4 linked regions of the Homo sapiens genome follow. The protein of the gene in region 1 purifies or fractionates together with the protein of each later gene. This does not show direct contact. Each region holds a gene or a part of one and is shown on either strand. Other genes may lie near its edges.

Region 1 (4,604 bases):
GATGCAATTACCCCTTCAGTGATTCTCTAGATAGAGAGATGAGTGGGCCTATGATGGTATCCTGGGATGCTCTGATAGATGTATTTACAGGTCAAAAGACACAGAGAACTCAGAAAAAGAGAATAAGAAGAAGCACTCAGTGATGAAAGAATAAAACCAGAAACTAATAAAGAAAAAGCAGATGAAAGATTTAATGTGAAAAAAATCATCTAAACATTAGAATTGCTGGATTTTGAATTTTGATGGATACTGTCAAATTTACTTCCCAAAGATTCCACATTTTACAATCCAGCCAAAACTCTATGAGACAGGTCTGTGCTTTTGTGATGTTTTGTGTGTTTTAAATAAGCATGACCTTCACTTTTGTTTTTAAAAAGTAACACCTGCTTGACAATATCCCTATCTGGAGGTGTGTGTAAACCTCTGGGCCAGGGCAGATCACATGCCATATATTTTCATTTATACCTCTTTCCCTCATCACTGGTGTTATATAATTGTGGCATATAAAAATTAATTGTCAGCAAAATGTAAAATGTTGAGATTTGAGTATATGAAAGAATTTTTTTAATACCGTTGTTAAAATTTTTATTGTTAATGTTTAATATAAATAGGAATTTGCCCTATGTGTTAGGTTATTGACACGACTACAATTCATTCCAATTCCATTCTCAACAACAGTTGTTATACTGGGCTTCCTTCTTGTAGGATCTTATATTGGTGATCTTCTTCTAGTAGGTGTTAAAGCACAAATCCTGGATAGTTATTAATATAACTAGATTTCTCACTATAAGACACTCTTTTACTTGAGAAATTTATTTGAGGTTTTCTATTCTTACCTAAGTAAACATATAACTTAAAGCCTTGCCAAGAGCTTGTTTTGCACTTTTCAGTCACTATCATTTCCTAGTAATTAGGAAAGTGTAGAGTTTCAGTAAAATCTTGCTTTAAAACCTGCCTGCAATCACATCCCTTAAAATAATGGCAACCCCTCATGGAAATATTGACTCAGAAAGTTGCAGGAAGACACTTCATTTGGGTATATTGTTATCTGCTGTTACTTCAATCATTCCTACATTCTTTACTCAGAAATCGTCTTAAATACATCATTTCATTTAGTGCTGATGATAGCACCCCAAAATATATTTTCACTGTAGAATGGAAACTATTAATGTTAATTTCCTCTGGTTTTCAACATTTACTGAGCATTTGAAGCTCTTTCCATTACATTTAAAAGTATTATTTTTGATCGTTTAATTAGCATCACGTTTTGGTTATTTCCTAATAATCCTTTTTTGAATAAACATTGAAGTGCCAGATAAAATTATATGATTTTTAAAAAAATAGTATATCACTGGCATTATTAAAATTAATGACATTTTCTAATTGTATCCCTCATCTATCCTCCAGATATTATAAACTTTCATGTTCACTAAAACTTTAATCCATCATTTAATTCCCTTTTACTGTATGATCAGCCTCTTTCTTTTATTCTTTTTTTTTCTTTCTTTCTTTTTTTTCTTGTGAGACCGAGTCTCACTCTGTCGCCCAGGCTGGAGAGCAATGGTGCGATCTCGGCTCACTGCAACCTCCGCCTCCTGGGTTCAAGTGATTCTCCTGCCTCAGCCTCCTGAGTAGCTGGGATGAAAGGTGTGCACCACCATGCCTGGTGATCAGTCTCTTTTTAATGTTTTCTATTTTATCTATTCATGTGTTCAAGTCTCTATAAAACAAAATACTACAAATTTCCCTTCATTATGTACTAACTCTCTGGTTACCTCCTGTTGTCTCTTTATTTGACATGTTAACCTTTTGAAATATGATGGCAAAACTTTCATCACAATGTAAACTTACTAATTTTTCAAATTCCAGGAATATCCATGTCTGTCCATTGAAAGCATTCTTTTTTTAACCTTCAAGTGATTGTTTTATCTACTTAATCAATCAATTACTGATACTATTGCTGCTTTTTAGTGATTACATTTTAACTTACCTAATGTGGTGCCAGATTAATAGCCTATTCTTTCCTTCAAACAGTGTAACCATCTTGCAAGACTTTATCCCCCAATTTTGTTATTCTTGTCCAGTATTTTAGTTCAATTATGTAACACCATAAATTTGTAATATTATTGTTCATACACGATCAAAGTTTGTTACCCACACCCCCATGGTCTCCATTTTCTTTGCTTCCCAGTCCTTCTTGGATCTCAGATCTTCTGTCTGGGATCATTTTCCTTCTTGAAGCACATTGGTTAGTTAGTTTATCAGGGAGGGATGCTGGTGATTTTGTTTGTTTGAAAATGTCTCTACTTTTCAAAGAGAATTTCTTCAGTGTGTAACTCTAGCTTGGCAATTATTTTATTTGAGTTATAATGGAATTATGGGTACACATTTCTTGGCTCTCCTTGCTGTCACTGAGAATACTGATTCAGTCTAATTGTTATATTTTGTAGATAATCTGTCTTTCTTCCCCATTTTGGAAATCTTTATTTTCTGTATTGTACTTTTTTTATGCTGTACGTAAGTGTGGATTTTTTTTTCTCATCATATCATATAAAGTTTAGGATATATTGTGCTTCTTCAGAGTGAGGACTCACATTTCATCAAAAAATGTTTTTTTTTTAGACAAGTCACTTGGGAACCCCTTTTACCCCAACGTGACAAAATTCAACACATAACAAACCCTGGACATTACATATTTTCTTCCAACCCCATGTTCCAGCTGTGGCTGTAGTTATCCTCTACAAATCTAGCTTAGAGATGAGGAAGGTTAAAAGGAGAAAGACCTGACCATGATAAGTGTTATCTGTGGGGTAATTCAAATTAAATTAACAGAATAACTCAAAGTTCAAAAAGTTAAATAACTTTTCCCAAATTGCTCATGTAATAATCCTTAAACTATGGTTTCAAACAATTGTCTGACTCAAGTTTTGAACTTTCCACATCATCATGTAGACGGTGCATCAGGACTCTCATCTTTGTACATGGGGGATTTTTTTTGTATGTTATAATAATTTTCCAGGAAATTGGAATTATAGAACCTATTGATTTTATGGTGTACTAAAGGTATATTCAACCTTACTTGTATTTAGCATCGTGCTTTGCCGGTAAGTCTAAATACACTACCTGTGTCCTAATGTTTGACTATGTATTTGGACTTGGAACCAAGCATGCATCATTCAGCCATTTGAACACATAGTAAAAACTTAATACATTTGAAGAGGCAAGAGTAACATATATCCATTTGAACACATAGATTTAAGGAATAATACGTAAGTCCTGTATTTCCCTAATGGGTATCGGTGTACAGATTGGAGTCTCATTGTTTCTCACTAGAACCTTCACAGATATATGCATGAGATGTATATATTTTAAGAAGAATTTTACATTGTTCAAGAAACACATATCTTACATTCAAGGTAATATAAATCCATCTGTAGAGCAATGGATTAAATATTCATGGAGCAAGGGTTATGAAAGAAAACCACTGTAAAAAAATACCTGAAGCATAATGAAGATTTAATTTATCCCTTAATACCATCAGCTATAACATGATAGACACAAATCTGAATACAGCTAAATTTATAAGACTGGTAAACATATGCCTTGTTTTCAATAATTTAACAGGTGCTTACTAAATGAAGTGATAATTAATAATTGAGTAATTGAATAATTGAATTCAAAGCATTTATCTATAATCTCACAAAACGTAGAATAACATTATGTAGAGTTCATCTGTAATTTTAGAACAGTCATAACTCTCACTTAATATGTTGTAAAAAAGTTATTTACTCCATTTTATTAATCATCTTATGATGAGATGCTTAAAAACAACTTTGAGTAACTACTATTGATATTCAATACAGGCAGCATAGTACACATTCACACACACACATTTTCCTTTTAAAGTTTGGTTATGATATATTACCCTCCTAGCATAGTAAGTCAGGAAAAAGCTGCAACTGTCTTAAAGCTGAAAGTTAAAAGGCTTTTAAAAGCTCTGAGTTTAAATTGTTCAGTTATTCAGTATTAGCAAAATAAAAAGCTCCCAGTAAAAATAATACATTTTCATTTATTTAACAATTAAATGTATTTTTGGGTACTATTTAAGCCTATTCATAAAAATAAAATGCAATATTTGTTAAACAGGAAGGATAAATATTTTCCACCTATAATTTAACACAAATAGGAATATCAATTGGTACTAGATTATAAGCAAAATGTTCTCTATTGATGTAATGATCACATGATAATTTCTGACATAATTACTTTTAAAACAGCAATAATTTGCTAGAAGATGAACAGGATAATATCTTACTTTAAATGAGACATCTGTAATCACTCTTTCCCTTTGGAAGTAGGAAGAAATTTACAACAGAGTCTGCTAGTAGGTCATTTTATTACCCAAGCCCTTAGATTTTATATTTTTACATGAAAACATGGCTCACTTTTAAAGACAGCCATCACTCTATGAATCCTCCTATCATGGCAAGACTGATTTGATGTTCATCACAATGCATTTTAAGAGGCAAGAGTGACATATATCCTTATTAATCTCATAATGATAAAGGATTGATTTCAACCTATATCCCAGACTGTTACATGAA
Region 2 (4,604 bases), on another chromosome or scaffold:
CTGTAAAGCTGTGTCCTCACTTCGTTCTCATTTTGTTCCTAGTCACGCTTTGGGTCTAAAATCAGAACTCTGTACTGCCAGCAGGAAAAGTTTTCCCTACTTATCTTTTCCAAGGCTCTTCCCTAAAAATACACTCAAAATGAATTGCTTCTAAATGAATTATCACATATTCATATAATAAAATGCTATGCAGCCAGTAAACATAAGGTTAGAGAATGTTTATTGATATGGTAACATATTCACAATATATTGAGTAAAGAGAATAGATTGCAAAACAGCATTTACAATATGAGTCCATTTTATAAAAAATAAGCAAAGTGTAATGTGTGTGTGTGTGTGTGTGTGTGTTTGTGTGTGTGTGTAAATATACCACTCCTATATGCTCAGAAACATTGGAAAGACACATACCAAATTATTAGCAGTTATTTTGGGGGATGAGATGTTTTATTTTCTTCTTTGTCTTTTTGTTCTTTCTAGTGAACATATATTTCTTTTCCACTATACAAAAATGTAAAAGCCACATTCTTAGAGATCTCGTGGCCCTGGATATCATCTCATGTATTACTCATCTAGTGTTGTGGAACAGCATGCTGGAGGCTTGCTGTGTATAGGCCATAAAACCGGGCTGGAAATAACCTTTTTAGATCCTATTTTAGTCCTCAAATCCTCACAAGTGGGCTCCTTCAGGAACCCACTTTATGTTAAATTCTACTCTCTAACAAAGGCTATGACAATGCTTCAAACACTTGTAATATGTATATATGTTCCCATATCAATATGTCTTCATGTGCTTTTAATACCTTCTATATATTAATGGTTTATAAATTGTTAACCCCAGGGATCCACTTAGATGCTTCAAGAGGCTTGAAAAAAAGTTGGATCCAAAATTTAAAAAAATATACAATTGTAATTATTTTTAAAAATACAATTAAAAATGTCTCACCATATTTTACAGCAGAGAACAGCAGCATTACTTTATGCCACCAGGATCTCTGCCATCATTTGAAAATAGTTTAACTGCATGATTGTTTAAGAAAACTGTAGCTCTAAATTAGTCTTAAAAAAAATTCGAGCTACACAGAGAGTTTATGCATATAAAATTGAAACAGGTTGTACAGCAGCACAAGACACAACAAGGACCAGGCACATCTGCTCATTGCATATTCTCATCATAGGCCTAACCATGAATTGTGCATAAAGAAGTAACAGTTTAATGAATTTCCTTATTGTTCTTCATTTACAGTTTTAGTACCTAGAATAAGTAGTAATTTTTCTCCTTACAGTTCTGCATTACAGTTTAATACTTAGAATAAGTATTAAATTTTTCTAGTCTTTTATAAGAATGTGAACCATACTTAGACATTTTTGGTGATACAACGTTGAAACAAAATTTTTCTACTTAACTCCCCTTTCAAATGCAATCTGTCTAGCAGAGTGTCCAGGCATTGCCAAGTAAGCTACTTTCTTTTTTTTTTTTTTTTTTTTTTTGAGACGGAGTCTCGCTCTGTCGCCCAGGCTGGAGTGCAGTGGCGGGATCTCGGCTCACTGCAAGCTCCGCCTCCCGGGTTCACGCCATTCTCCTGCCTCAGCCTCCCGAGTAGCTGGGACCACAGGCGCCCGCCACTACGCCCGGCTAATTTTTTGTATTTTTAGTAGAGACGGGGTTTCACCGTTTTAGCCGGGATGGTCTCGATCTCCTGACCTCGTGATCCGCCCGCCTCGGCCTCCCAAAGTGCTGGGATTACAGGCGTGAGCCACCGTGCCCGGCCCAAGTAAGCTACTTTCAACACCCAAGTAAATCAGAATTTCCTGTGCAACCAAAACCAAATGAAGATATCATATGAGCTGCAATTGATACAACTGCAACTGTCATTCAAAATGCAAATCATCCAAAATGCAAATATTGATTTTATGTTCATAAAACAGACACATTCTTCTTACTAGTTAATTTATAAGCAAATTTTATTTATAGTCAGTATTTGAATACTTTATGCCACTTCTATTGCTATCCCCTGGCCCAAGAGACCATCCTCTCATGAATATTACGGGACGCAGGGCCTCCTCACCTGTCCTCCTGCTTTTACGCCTTTTGCCTTTGTGGCCTGTTCTCAGCACCTGAATCATGGCATTTTTCACTCACTACTGTGCAATGGCCTCTCATTCCATTAGAATGAAAGTCAAATTCTGTATAATGGTTCACCACACCCTGCACCGACTGATGCCTCAGCACCATACAGACGCCATCTCCTGCTACCCCTCTACTCACAATAGCTGCTGTGACTCCCATGGTGCTTCAAACGGGTGGGTGCACCAGGCACCCATTCACAGCAAGGCCCTTGACCTTGTCATCCCTTCCTCCTCAAGGCCTCTTTGCTTCCTCACTTCTGAGAAGTCTTTGATCTAATGTCATCCTTTCAACGCACCTTCCTAGGCCATTCTTAACTTCAGTACTACCCAGCGTCCTCTAACTCCCATGTTTTAGACTTCCTCTTTGCATATATCACTATCTGAAGTGACTCTTGCTCATATCACTTAGTATTTACTGTCTGTCTCCTCCCACAACAGTGTAAGCTGCATGAGAGCAAGCAGAGAATTTTACCTGTTCTGGTACTTTCTGTATCCCCAGAAGCCTAGAGCAATGCCTGGCACAAATGGCCAGCAGACAATACACATTTGTTGAATGAATAAAATATTCTAAATTTGCATTCCTCACAATATTCTTATTAATAAAACCCATAAAATGTTATGTTTATACTGCCACCAAAGAAAGCTGCATAAAATTATAAGTTCCCAAGGAAGGTTTATGTGTTCACTATAATTTGGAACTATTTAAAGTACTCAGCATAATACTTCAACCACCACACTGACGGCACTCATCCCAATTAACATCTATAGGCCGCGCATCCTTTTAAGTCTCTCTCTACCCATTAGTCTTCACATATGTACAATAATAATAGTTTACTTAAAGGGGGATTATTTTTTAAGAATCTTTTCACTTTGGATTATATCTTCAACTTGATAAAGCAACTTAAGTCTAGCCAAGGCTTTCCTAAAAGAATTCCAACCATCCTTTCTACCACCGCCATGATCTGTGATGATTTTCACCCCATGCCTCTGTTCACCCAGCCTTTTTTCAAATATCACCACTTCTTTTAACTGCACAATTCTGTTGACATCTTCAAGTTGCACACCCACGTTCATTAAGTAGAATACACATTTGTGGAAATATCTAACATGTGACTGCTATCCTATTGAGCTCAATGGAAGCTACGTGGCTAAGTCATAGCCCATGCTCCATGAAGACCCTTTTTCTATCAGGTGTGATACACAGCTTCTCTCCACAACCTCTGTCTCCCTCTGTGTCATACAATTTGGCATGTATACAATTTTAGAACAGCTTCAGCCACAAGCAAGCATTGTGTAAGTGGAATGTTCATCTGGGACTGATGAGGAGATTTTTAGAAAACAGAAATGTCAGTTATGCTGATTTTTAAATATTTTCAGTTTAACAACTTGTTTATCCTAATGGTACTGCCTAGCACATTAGGATGAAAACTTGCAAGGTGATCATTTGATAATACCTTTATTCTCAGAGCTTATGAAATTGAAAGAGAAAGATAACAGCCCAGGAACGATAGACTGATTTACTGTTTGCTGTTAACTACAATAGACTTTTCAGTCAGGGCATGGATGTGTATGTGTTTTTGTATTCATACATGCTATATCAAAATAAATACAAATTGACTGTGCAGCAGGAGAAATGAGTGCACTGGACAGGAATTATGAAGGTGATCTGGCTGCATCCAATTCTACCTTGAAATCACCAAACAAGTGTGAAGTCCAACTAAATGTTATACAGTTTACATAAATGTCAAGTAGGAGGTGTTTTATTTCAGGCTTTGATCATGATGGTTCAATGTGAATAGAACTTGTGCATTTTGAAATTTAAGCACTATACCCATTGATGTATTGTCTGTAACCATGTCAAAATAGAAACTAAGATTTCAATAAAGCACAAAACATTCCTGCATCACGAGGCTGCGAACAGAAAACAAAAAGTGCCTGGAGTCAATAAAATACAAAAATCCATCAGCTCTGCTGATCTGCATGAGATTACACTGAAAGAAAAACTTCTAGTTGGCAGGATTCTAGACACCAAACTGAAAATTACATGTCACGTGTTGATCAACTCTTATTTAGTCACGTTCTGTGATTTCTATTTAGAAGAACATACTTTTTTGTCTGATTTATTTATATTGAGATCTTAACCATCACTGTGATCTCTGTAGTTTCTACTTCCTTCTTTGGCAGTAACTATTCATTAATAGAACCACTAGCGTGCCTTAATGTAAAACCAAATTCCACATCCATGTAATTAGCCCTTTGCTATTTTGTTAACAACAACAACGAACAAACAAACAGCGTCTCAGATTTCATAAGCATTCTTCGTTGACACATCTGCTATTCAAAAGATTCACTCAGCTGGGAGACTGTGGGGTCAACATTTCTAGCTGCACCCTACGTAATACCATGGATCAAAATTACAGAAAGTGTTGGTCATCCAGGGTCCTATAGAGACGTCCTCATAAGCAGCTGGGTGCCAC
Region 3 (4,604 bases), on another chromosome or scaffold:
TAATTGGCCCGCGAAGAGCCTGTTATTCAAGAGATCCAAAGACAGCTTGTAAGAGATGACCATGAAAGAGAGTCCTGCTCATTTACCTACATTCACTAACTCTAAGAACAAGTAACCCTAGAGCTGCTGGGAGAAGAATCTGCCAGAAAATGAAGTCCACACAAAGAAAAGCAGAGCCAAGACATGGCAGAGCCAGAGAAACAGGGTTCAGATGCCACCATGCAAAGTCCTTGATCCAGCTTCTCCTGGAGCTCTTTTATTCCTGAGACTCCCTGGTCACATCAGTCAGTAAGTTTCCCTTTCTGCCAATGCTAGCAGTTTGAGTTAGTCTCTGTCGATTAGACTAACAGAAACAGGTCCAGCAGAAAATGAAATAAAAATATATTTAGCAAAAAATCATCTGAGTTAGTTTTACAGTTATGGATTTCAAATTTCACCATTTGAAACAGATAAATTTGTACACTAAATAGTAACTAAAAATATTAATAGCAAGATCTCAAAGATACCCATTGGGAAATTTTACCTTGGGTGCAATAATTTAAGCTTAAGAAGGGTTTTTGCCACTGACTTGGAGGTAACAATGACATGACCATTTCTCAGGGACTTTTTGACAATTATCTTACTTATGAATAAACCAGAAAGATAGATGATACTAAATATTAGTTTCGCCCTTAGACCCAAATATCTAGGACCTCTCCCCTGGGCCCCATGCCTGGATGGCCCCATTCTGTATACAGTGGTTTAGGTGGCTTCACTGTATTACTATGTAATTATTATTCTCCAAATTTCCATAAAAGTTGTCAATATCACTTTTTTTCAAACATATGCATGAACCATCATGAAAACTTGAGTACTATCTTAATGCTATTTATTTATTTATTTATTTAGAGATGGAGTCCCGCTCTGTCACCCAAGCTGGAGTGCAGTGGCGTGCGCCGATCTCGGCTCACGGCAACCTCTGCCTCCTTGGTTCAAGTGATTCTCCTGCCTCAGCCTCCCAAGCAGGTGGGACTACAGGTGCACCCCACCACGCCTTGCTAATTTTTGTATTTTTAGTAGAGATGGGGTTTCACCATGTTGGCCAAGCTAGTCTCAAACACCTGACCTCAGGTGATCTGCCTGCCTCAGCTTCCCAAAGTGCTGGGATTACAGGCATGAGCCACCGCACCTGGCCTGTATCTAAATTTTATCGCAAATTATCTGAGTCATCTTGGGCAAGCCCTTTGACTTCTCTGGACCCCAACTTCACCATATAATAGGAAGATGTCCTGCCTAACCTGCCTGGAGTGTTGAGGACATCCGGTGGGACAACATCTGCAAACGCACTTTGAAAAACATAGAGATTATTAATGTAAGAGCAAGAGTCCTTAAGACAAAACTCAATTTTATTCTATGCTTTTTGACAGTTGGGATCTGCGGAAAAGCCATAGGCTTATTACAAATTCTGAATCTCTTTTCAGGATCTAATCTGAATCTATCAGATTAGACCTCTCACAGGTCAAATGTAGAGAAGGATTAGATTATAGTAATAGAACTAGGACCTTGATCACATCTCCAACTGGCCTTTCTGATCTTGCAACCCTTTGTCACCTACAGGAAATCTGCCCAAACCAGTCTACTCCCCGTCTCCCAAACAAGATCCAGACTTTGTTGTATTCAACCACTCCCCTCACCTCAAATCTGCTCTCTTAACTCATCCATCACTCAACATCTTGCTTGAACTTCAAGAACAAGTTCATCCACTCTGACAACCAGCGCCCCCTAGGGCTCACTTGGTGATGAGTTAGGCACTGTTTTGTTATAGTTCTTATGTGATTCTCTGAAGACGTCCTGTAAATTTCTCATTGTTACAGTTCCTGCGTATCTCCAACCTGTCTTGACAATTAGACTGTAAGTATGCTAAAGCCAGTCACTGCCTTGTACTCTTCTTGCACAAAGTAGATACTCAGCAAATATTTGTTGGTTAGTTAAAAAGGAAATTGTCCAAAGGAGGAAAATGGCTTAGAAAAGAATTTATAAAGAAATGAAATGAGGGAGATAAACTCATAGAACAGCAGGTTACCCATTGAAATCTATTAAACATAGACAAGGGAGCTGGTCTATTCAAAAGAAGCCCAGAAATCTGAAATCAAATATTTAGAATGGAAAGAAACTTCAGGATAATCCAATTGACATTCTTCATTCATTGTGGTTAATCACCCACTAACTTCTCTGACTTGTGAATTGAGTTTTTATACATTTAATTTTTTATGTTATAAAATATGACTCTCAGTAATTTCCTAGAAACAGAGTCTGAGAGAATAGAACCTTGAAAAAATGGCAGCTATTTCATCGATATAAAAAAATATTTTTTCTTGCTAGAGTCAAGCCAGACATCTTGAGCCAGACTTGTGGTATCCCTTTTTTATTTTACACTTCAATATGGAAAAGAACAGATGATTAACAGAAAGACAGGATTCCTCACCTGGAAACACAGAAAATGCTGACTGGTTCAGAGGGGAGCTAACTTCAGGAGCGAATCCAAAGTGTTAGAAGGTCCTAGAAGTCAAATTGTTGAGCTTTGATATGCTGTCAGAGAAAGCACTGGCTTGGGACTCAGAGGACCGAGATTTTGAGAACTTGCTTCATCAGTTTCACTTATGTGACCATTGACAGTTTCCCAAATTCTAATTATCAGATTTTTTTTGGTCTTAAAAATAGGGTCATGGATGGAATTAAATGAGATAATGTATTTAAAGACACTTCATTTATAGAAAAGCTTAATTTGCATTATTTATTATCCAGTTAATTTCCATTAAAAACTATTTTAATCTAGCTGTCCTGAAGGTGAGCCTTTATAATCTAAGAACCGAAATGGCATCATAACACCCTTGAAGCCCCTTGGTTATTCATCCTTATCCTGGCTCTAAAGATAAACTAATCCTCGGCTCTAGCATGTTCCAGCCCTTGCAGCTTTCCCTGAACTCACACGCCCTCAACAAATGACACGTAGCCAAGAGCTTCCCGCTCTACAATTAGTCACATCAATCTGAAGCCTCCTCACGGGTTGGTGAACACAGCAGTATCTTCTTTCGCTGCCTGAGATTCTTGCAAAGATGGGAGAGGCAGCTTTTCAACAGCCTAAAAGGCCATCTCCACCACCAGAATGTGTCTTCTCTCCAAGTCCCCCCTTCCGTGGTCATATGAGTGGCTCTGTCCTGTGTGGAGAGGCATCACTGCCCTCTGTGAGCTGTCCGTTGAAAGAATCAGTGAGGTCCTCCCACCTCAAGATGGTCCAGGCATGCTTACCACCTGGGACCCCTCCCAGCTGACCGCAACCCAGCCCTAGCTTGAAAAGGCCTCTGAGACACTGTTCAAAAGTCATTGGCTTTTGTCCAATGGACCAACTTAGGTTCCTGTGGGGTAGACTCCTGATGGCAGAGTATGAATGAACACTAATGATCATCCGTGTCAGCTAATAATATGAAACATATCTGCCCTAGCATAAAAGCCAGAGTGGGAACACACTCCACCATTTTCATAGCAATACTGCTCATGTGCAAGGTTGGAAATAGAGACATAACGCTAAATAAAGCCCTCGAATTGGCTATCCTGGAACTTCATCTGTACACTGTTTCTTAGAGATCTTAAATTGTGTTTAACAGAATGGAAGGGAACCTAGACATCAGAGAGCACTCTCAGTTAGCAAATGGCATCACCAAGGCAGAGAAAGGAAGGGACATTCCCAGGATCACTCAATGAGTGGCAAGGCTAGAATGGAGCACAGGGCTGTCCAACCCTCCAGACTCTGTGGCCGCTTCTGTAACCAATTAAACATGCTCTGCCCTGAAGCATTTAGCATCTAAGCTGAATGTAACCTCTGGGTGTCTCCTTATCCAAAAGCAAGGGGTGTGGCCAGATCATCTCCCCACCTACCCCTTAGCCCCGATGACTCCATAGCACAAAATCAGAACTGCAATCCACCAACCTGGTATCAGCCTCCCACAGACTGTGTGTTTATGAGCTCTGGCTCTTGCTGTTATGCCAGGCTACTTTCCTCAGTGAGCAGACACGCGATAAATACTGACAACTGATTGGCTGATGAATGAGCTCATAAATAATAATGTTTACAGCTTCCTTCCTGAACTCACAGCCAAAGCAACTCCGCTAAATGGCCTCTTTTCCTCCTTTCTTTCCTCCTCGGCTTGCTTATAAATTTTAAGATGCATCATGCAAGATGTCAGGGAAGCAATTACTTTGGGGTTTACCCTTAAAAAGGAAAAAAAATAGCACCAAAGTCCATAGGGGAAAATTTCCCTGAACTAAACATGAACCAGAAAATGTATACAGACTTTGATTACACATGGTACTCCAGGGTTCTTTAATCAAACGGTCCATCAGGGTGTCAAGAGCTCTTTCCCCTGGTTTCCAAGAGAGGAGAACACGATCCTTTTTTCCGGGCAGGAGGAGAGTGCCAGGGACAGATCTAAGGGCAGAGGCCACTGACAAATGGAAGGTGAAGTCTGAGATGTAGACACTACCAGGACAGCAGCCATAATATGTGGAAGACCCAGGACCAGAAGAGCCTGTGTGTGTGTGTGGGTGGGGGGGGGGGGTGTATAACA
Region 4 (4,604 bases), about 120 Mb from region 1:
GGTGAGGTAACTGCAGGGAGACAGATTGTCACTACTGACCAGCCAGCTTGCCCACAGGGCCCACCACCATACCAGGCCCTAGTACAAGCCAAGCACCATCCTACTCAGGCTTCAACAGCAACCAAGAAGAGACCCAGGCCCCAGCACAGCACATTCCTCCCGAAAGCACAGGCCCCAGTGAAAGACAGCTCCTGAGTTCTAGGACCGCTCCTAGTACAGCCAAGTCCACATACTGGAAGTCCCAATACAGCGCAGGCCCCAGTGTTATTATAGCCCCTATGCTACCCCAATAACCCTCATCCAGTGCAACCGCTTGTTATAGCACAACCCTTCTAGTTCTAACCCAGCTTCCCAATATTGGCACAGCCTCCCTTTAATCCCAGAATGACCTGTAATACGGTGTAGAGCCCAATACCAGAGTAACATAATACCACCCGACTCCCCTAATTCCAGCTCAGCCTCTAAACACCAGCATAGCCTGCAGTTTCTAGAACAGCTTCCTAAAAGAAGCAGACTCCTAACTCCCAAACAGCTCACCAATACCACAACAGTTAGTTCCCTCATTTCCAAACAGCACCCTCCAAACTCCAGCTCCTCACCTGTCTCACTGCTCTTGCCACTGCCTCCTTCCAAATGAGGGAACAACCTTTCTTTTCTTATCCTGTGTTCCTCATCCCTGGTTTGTGATGTTGCAGCAGTCTGAAGACTCCCTGCTGTCGCCCCTCCCACTCAGCCCCCCATCCCCACTTCACTCCCCTCCAGAGAGGCCTGGGAGTGGAAAAAAAGGGAGGAGCCTGATAACAAACCAGGGCACCTGGGGGAAGGGGACAAAGCAGAACAATGGAAACTCCCCAGTCCTCCCGATCAGGAAATAGAATATTCACTGGAGAGGGTAGGGCTCTGCCAGGAGCCTGGACATGGGGAGAGGGCATGGCACCCATTAGGGATTAGGAAAGCTGGTCTCAAAGGGAGACTCCTTCCAGGAAATAGGAAGGAGCTTCTGGGAGGGCTGCTGGCATGAGGAGCCAGACTTGGAGGCTTGGACTGGGGACTGGGGGTCGGGGGAGTGGAACCGTGACAGGCTGCTCCCAGCCAGCAGCCCTGTATGCCTGCCACAGGTTAACGATCAGCCCTGGAACCTGGCAATCTCAACTTGGCACTTGGCACAACCAGCCAGCCACCCAAATACCCACTTGGGACTGCCACAGATTTTCCTGCCAACCAGAAATTAGGAGTTGTGGAGGGTGCAGACTCAGGGTCCCTGGAGGCCAGGGGTGAAAACAGCTAAGCCCAGGGCCCTGCTGATGAGTCTCTAAGCTCCTTCCCATCCTCCAAGACTTTGGCAGTGCTTTGTCTTACTCTATAACTCTGGATAGGAGGTTATGAAGATGGCCAGGGGAGGTGGCCCTGGCTTTGTAGACTTACCCTCCTAATAGCCCCATTCAAGGCAGCTAGGGTGGAAGAGGCTGTCAGGACAGGAGTTTTGGAGCTGCTGTGAAGGTAGCCCAGAACTGCCTCCCCACTATCCCCATTCCTGAAGATGGCTCCCACCTCATCTTCAGGAATAAGCGACCGTTCTTGGAATCCTTGTATTGATCTAAAACACTGAAGGGTCTGGGTGATGACTGATAAGGTCCCCAAAACTAACATGGATGTTTGGGGCCGGGAGGCTATAAAGGAGTGTAGTCCACCTGGTGTAGGGGTGATTAGGGTCCAGGAGGGGTCTGGGAGGCACAGGGCAACATGGTTGTTGGTGCTTCTCTTTCCAGTTTTCTTTCAAGATACTGGCCAGCAGTCCCACCTCCCTGCAGAACCCATATCTGGTAATTGAAGGCTTTGGTCCTGCCTACTAAGCAAGTCGCTTGGTCTCTTTTCCCATGATTCTTTTCCATAAAATGGAGGGTTGGGTTATACCCAACACTTAATGTTCCCTCTAATTTTATGACTATCAAATTATAAAAGCCCAGATCAAAAAATCTCTCTCAAACTCTTTGAGTCCTGAAGCTCTAGACACTTGCTGATTATTTCCAGTTGGCTCTGCCTACTGGCCCTTAAGATTCAACATGTCTGAAACCAAATGCTTCTTCAATTAGCTTCTGTATGGGCAATGATCTCATCACTATCCTATCACCCAGACTCAGAAGGCTGATGTCTACCTGAGAATCCTGGTAGCTCTCCCCTCATTCCCTATCCCTACCTCATATCCAATTATCCCTTGAATCCTGTGGGTCCTTTCTCCCTAACCTTTGCCAAATCCATCCATCCATCACCCCCATTGCCACCATCATAGTCCAACTCTTAGAGGTTCAGTCCTGTACCTTCATCTCTATGCCCTTTTAAGCCCACCATATATTCCAGTGCTCTTTCTAAAACTCAGTTCATCTAAAACACTCATGAGCTTTCAGGGACTAGTTCCTTCTGAAGAACTTTTGGTAAGGCACCTATGTCCTCTACAACCTACAGTTCTTCCAGTCTCATCTTTCAGCTTTCTCTTATGCCCCTCTTCTTGCCAGAATATTCCTTTTTCTGCCCTTTCCCTGCCTCCAACTTGGTTCACTTCTGCCGCAGGAGTTTGCTTACACGGTGACCCTGTGAGGAGGCAGGGGACCCTCCTGCCCTAATCCTGCTCATCATTGACAAGCTGACTTTCTCCTTCCAGAAGCCCATTTCCATGTCTTGTACAAGTTTTCCCATACTGTGCTCGTCAAAGGAAGGGAGGGGCAATATGGTGAAATAAATTCAGAAAACTCAAGAGGTAAACAAAATTGGGGCCAGGCACGGCAGCTCACACCTGTCATCCAAGCACTTTGGGAGGCTGAGGTGGGCAGATCGCTTGAGCCCAGGAGTTGAGACCAGCCTGGGCAACATGGCAAAACCCTGTCTCTACAGAAATTACAAAAATTAGCCAGGTGTGGTGGTGCACGACTGTAGTCCCAGCTACACAGGAGGATCGCTTGAGCCCAGGTGGCAGAGGTTGCAATGAGCCAAGATTGCGCCCCTGCACTCCAGCCTGGGTGACAGAGCAAGACCCTGTCTCAAAAAAAAAAAAAAAAAAGGTTAAACGAAGTCTAACAGGTTCCCCCTTTTTTGGAGGACTCTGCAGAGCCTTTAATAGGCTAATGTGATCATGAATTTCTTACTACCAAAACTAACTTCACCACAGAACGCCTTTTTTATAGCATAATAGGTAATAGGAGACCCGCCTGCTTTGTGTTTGAATTTGGCTGCATCACTATTTAGTTTTCACTTCTGCAAAATTAATATTAAAATGACCCATATCATAAAGAGTTATGAGCACTGATTGAACTAATTCACACAAAGTGCTTAGCATGGTACCTCACACCTAGTAAGGACTCAAAAAATGGAAGTGAGTGCCGGGCATGGTGGCTCATGCCTGTAATCCCAGCACTTTGGGAGGCCACGGCGGGCAGATCGCCTGAGGTCAGGAGCTCAAGACCAGCCTGACCAACATGGAGAAACCCTGTCTCTACTAAAAATACAAAATTAGCTGGGTGTGGTGGCACATGCCTGTAATCCCAGCTACTCAGGAGGCTGAGGCAGGAGAATTGCTTGAACCTGGGAGGCAGAGGTTGCAGTGAGCTGAGATCGTGCCATTGCACTCCAGCCTGGGCAACAAGAGCAAAACTCCATCTCAAAAAAAAAAAAAAAAAAAAAAAAGGAAGTGAGCAGTAGCAGTAGAAGTAGTTTCATGGAATAAGTTGGGAAAAGCTTTAGTAGGGCACTTCTCATTCGACTCAAGACACTCAATTGCCTCATCGTTCACTTGTCTGTCTTGTACAAGTATGGCCATTTTTTCATCAGGGTCTAGTACCATGCTGAGTACTCAGTGGAAACTTGGCCTGTGTGTGTTGATGATGACAACAGGTGGTGTGGTTTGGTTGTATCTGAATGTTGGGAGAAGACATTCAGTGTGGCTCCATGGATGGGTTAGGTTGGATTAGAGCTGAGTAAGAGACAATCCCTCAGATCATGGGAAAGAAAAAGAGATGAAGACGCTAAAGGAATAGGAGAAAGACGGAAGGAATGCCAGAAAGGACAGAAAAGGAAGAGAAAGAATGGGAGGTCAGGAGTTGCTGGAGATCACGATATGGTTAGATCTCACTTCCCCAGGCCCCACTCCTCCAAGGACCCAAGGAGTTTTTACTTTGGGGGCCCCCCAGGGCATTGGGGGAATTTGTGGATGGAATCAGAGGAGAGAGCTGGAGCCTTGGTCCTCTTGGGAGTGTCTCAAGCCTCTTTAGTCACCATGGAGATAGGTTGCCTCTGGCCTCAGAGACTCCCCCAGGGCCTGAGGCCCCTCAGCCACGATTTAGCCTTCCTCCAACTCAGGCACAACCAGAGACAGGGCAGACCCAGGAGAGCAAGAAGTGAGAGATGGAGAGAGAGAGAGTGCAAGCAAGCAACCCAGGGTGGCCAGAGCAAGGAGTGGAAAGTGGGGAGGGAGGTAGCATCACAGGCGGAAGGCAGAACTAGGAAGCCTCTGCTCATGAGCAGGGAACCCCCTAAGAGTGGGGGTGCAGGGCAGGTCAATGCAAAGAACTTAGGAATTCGCCATGTCTCCCCCAGGGCCCCGCTCCCTGCAG

What was found.
Region 2: the proteins of CDH12 (region 1) and CTNNA2 purify together in Homo sapiens (affinity purification with mass spectrometry; one large-scale study listed by BioGRID and IntAct). This does not show direct contact.
Region 3: the proteins of CDH12 (region 1) and FRMD4A purify together in Homo sapiens (affinity purification with mass spectrometry; one large-scale study listed by BioGRID and IntAct). This does not show direct contact.
Region 4: the proteins of CDH12 (region 1) and PCDH1 purify together in Homo sapiens (affinity purification with mass spectrometry; one large-scale study listed by BioGRID and IntAct). This does not show direct contact.

What each region holds. Positions count from the first base shown.
Region 1 is NC_000005.10:22,846,380-22,850,983, forward strand, and holds part of CDH12 (cadherin-12 isoform 1 preproprotein), read right to left. Parts: intron 1-4,604. UniProt on the Homo sapiens protein: Cadherins are calcium-dependent cell adhesion proteins. They preferentially interact with themselves in a homophilic manner in connecting cells; cadherins may thus contribute to the sorting of heterogeneous cell types.
Region 2 is NC_000002.12:79,911,051-79,915,654, reverse strand, and holds part of CTNNA2 (catenin alpha-2), read right to left. Parts: intron 1-4,604. UniProt on the Homo sapiens protein: May function as a linker between cadherin adhesion receptors and the cytoskeleton to regulate cell-cell adhesion and differentiation in the nervous system. Required for proper regulation of cortical neuronal migration and neurite growth.
Region 3 is NC_000010.11:14,323,787-14,328,390, forward strand, and holds part of FRMD4A (FERM domain-containing protein 4A), read right to left. Parts: intron 1-4,604. UniProt on the Homo sapiens protein: Scaffolding protein that regulates epithelial cell polarity by connecting ARF6 activation with the PAR3 complex. Plays a redundant role with FRMD4B in epithelial polarization. May regulate MAPT secretion by activating ARF6-signaling.
Region 4 is NC_000005.10:141,857,462-141,862,065, forward strand, and holds part of PCDH1 (protocadherin-1 isoform 2 precursor), read right to left. Parts: intron 11-4,604; coding exon 1-10. UniProt on the Homo sapiens protein: May be involved in cell-cell interaction processes and in cell adhesion.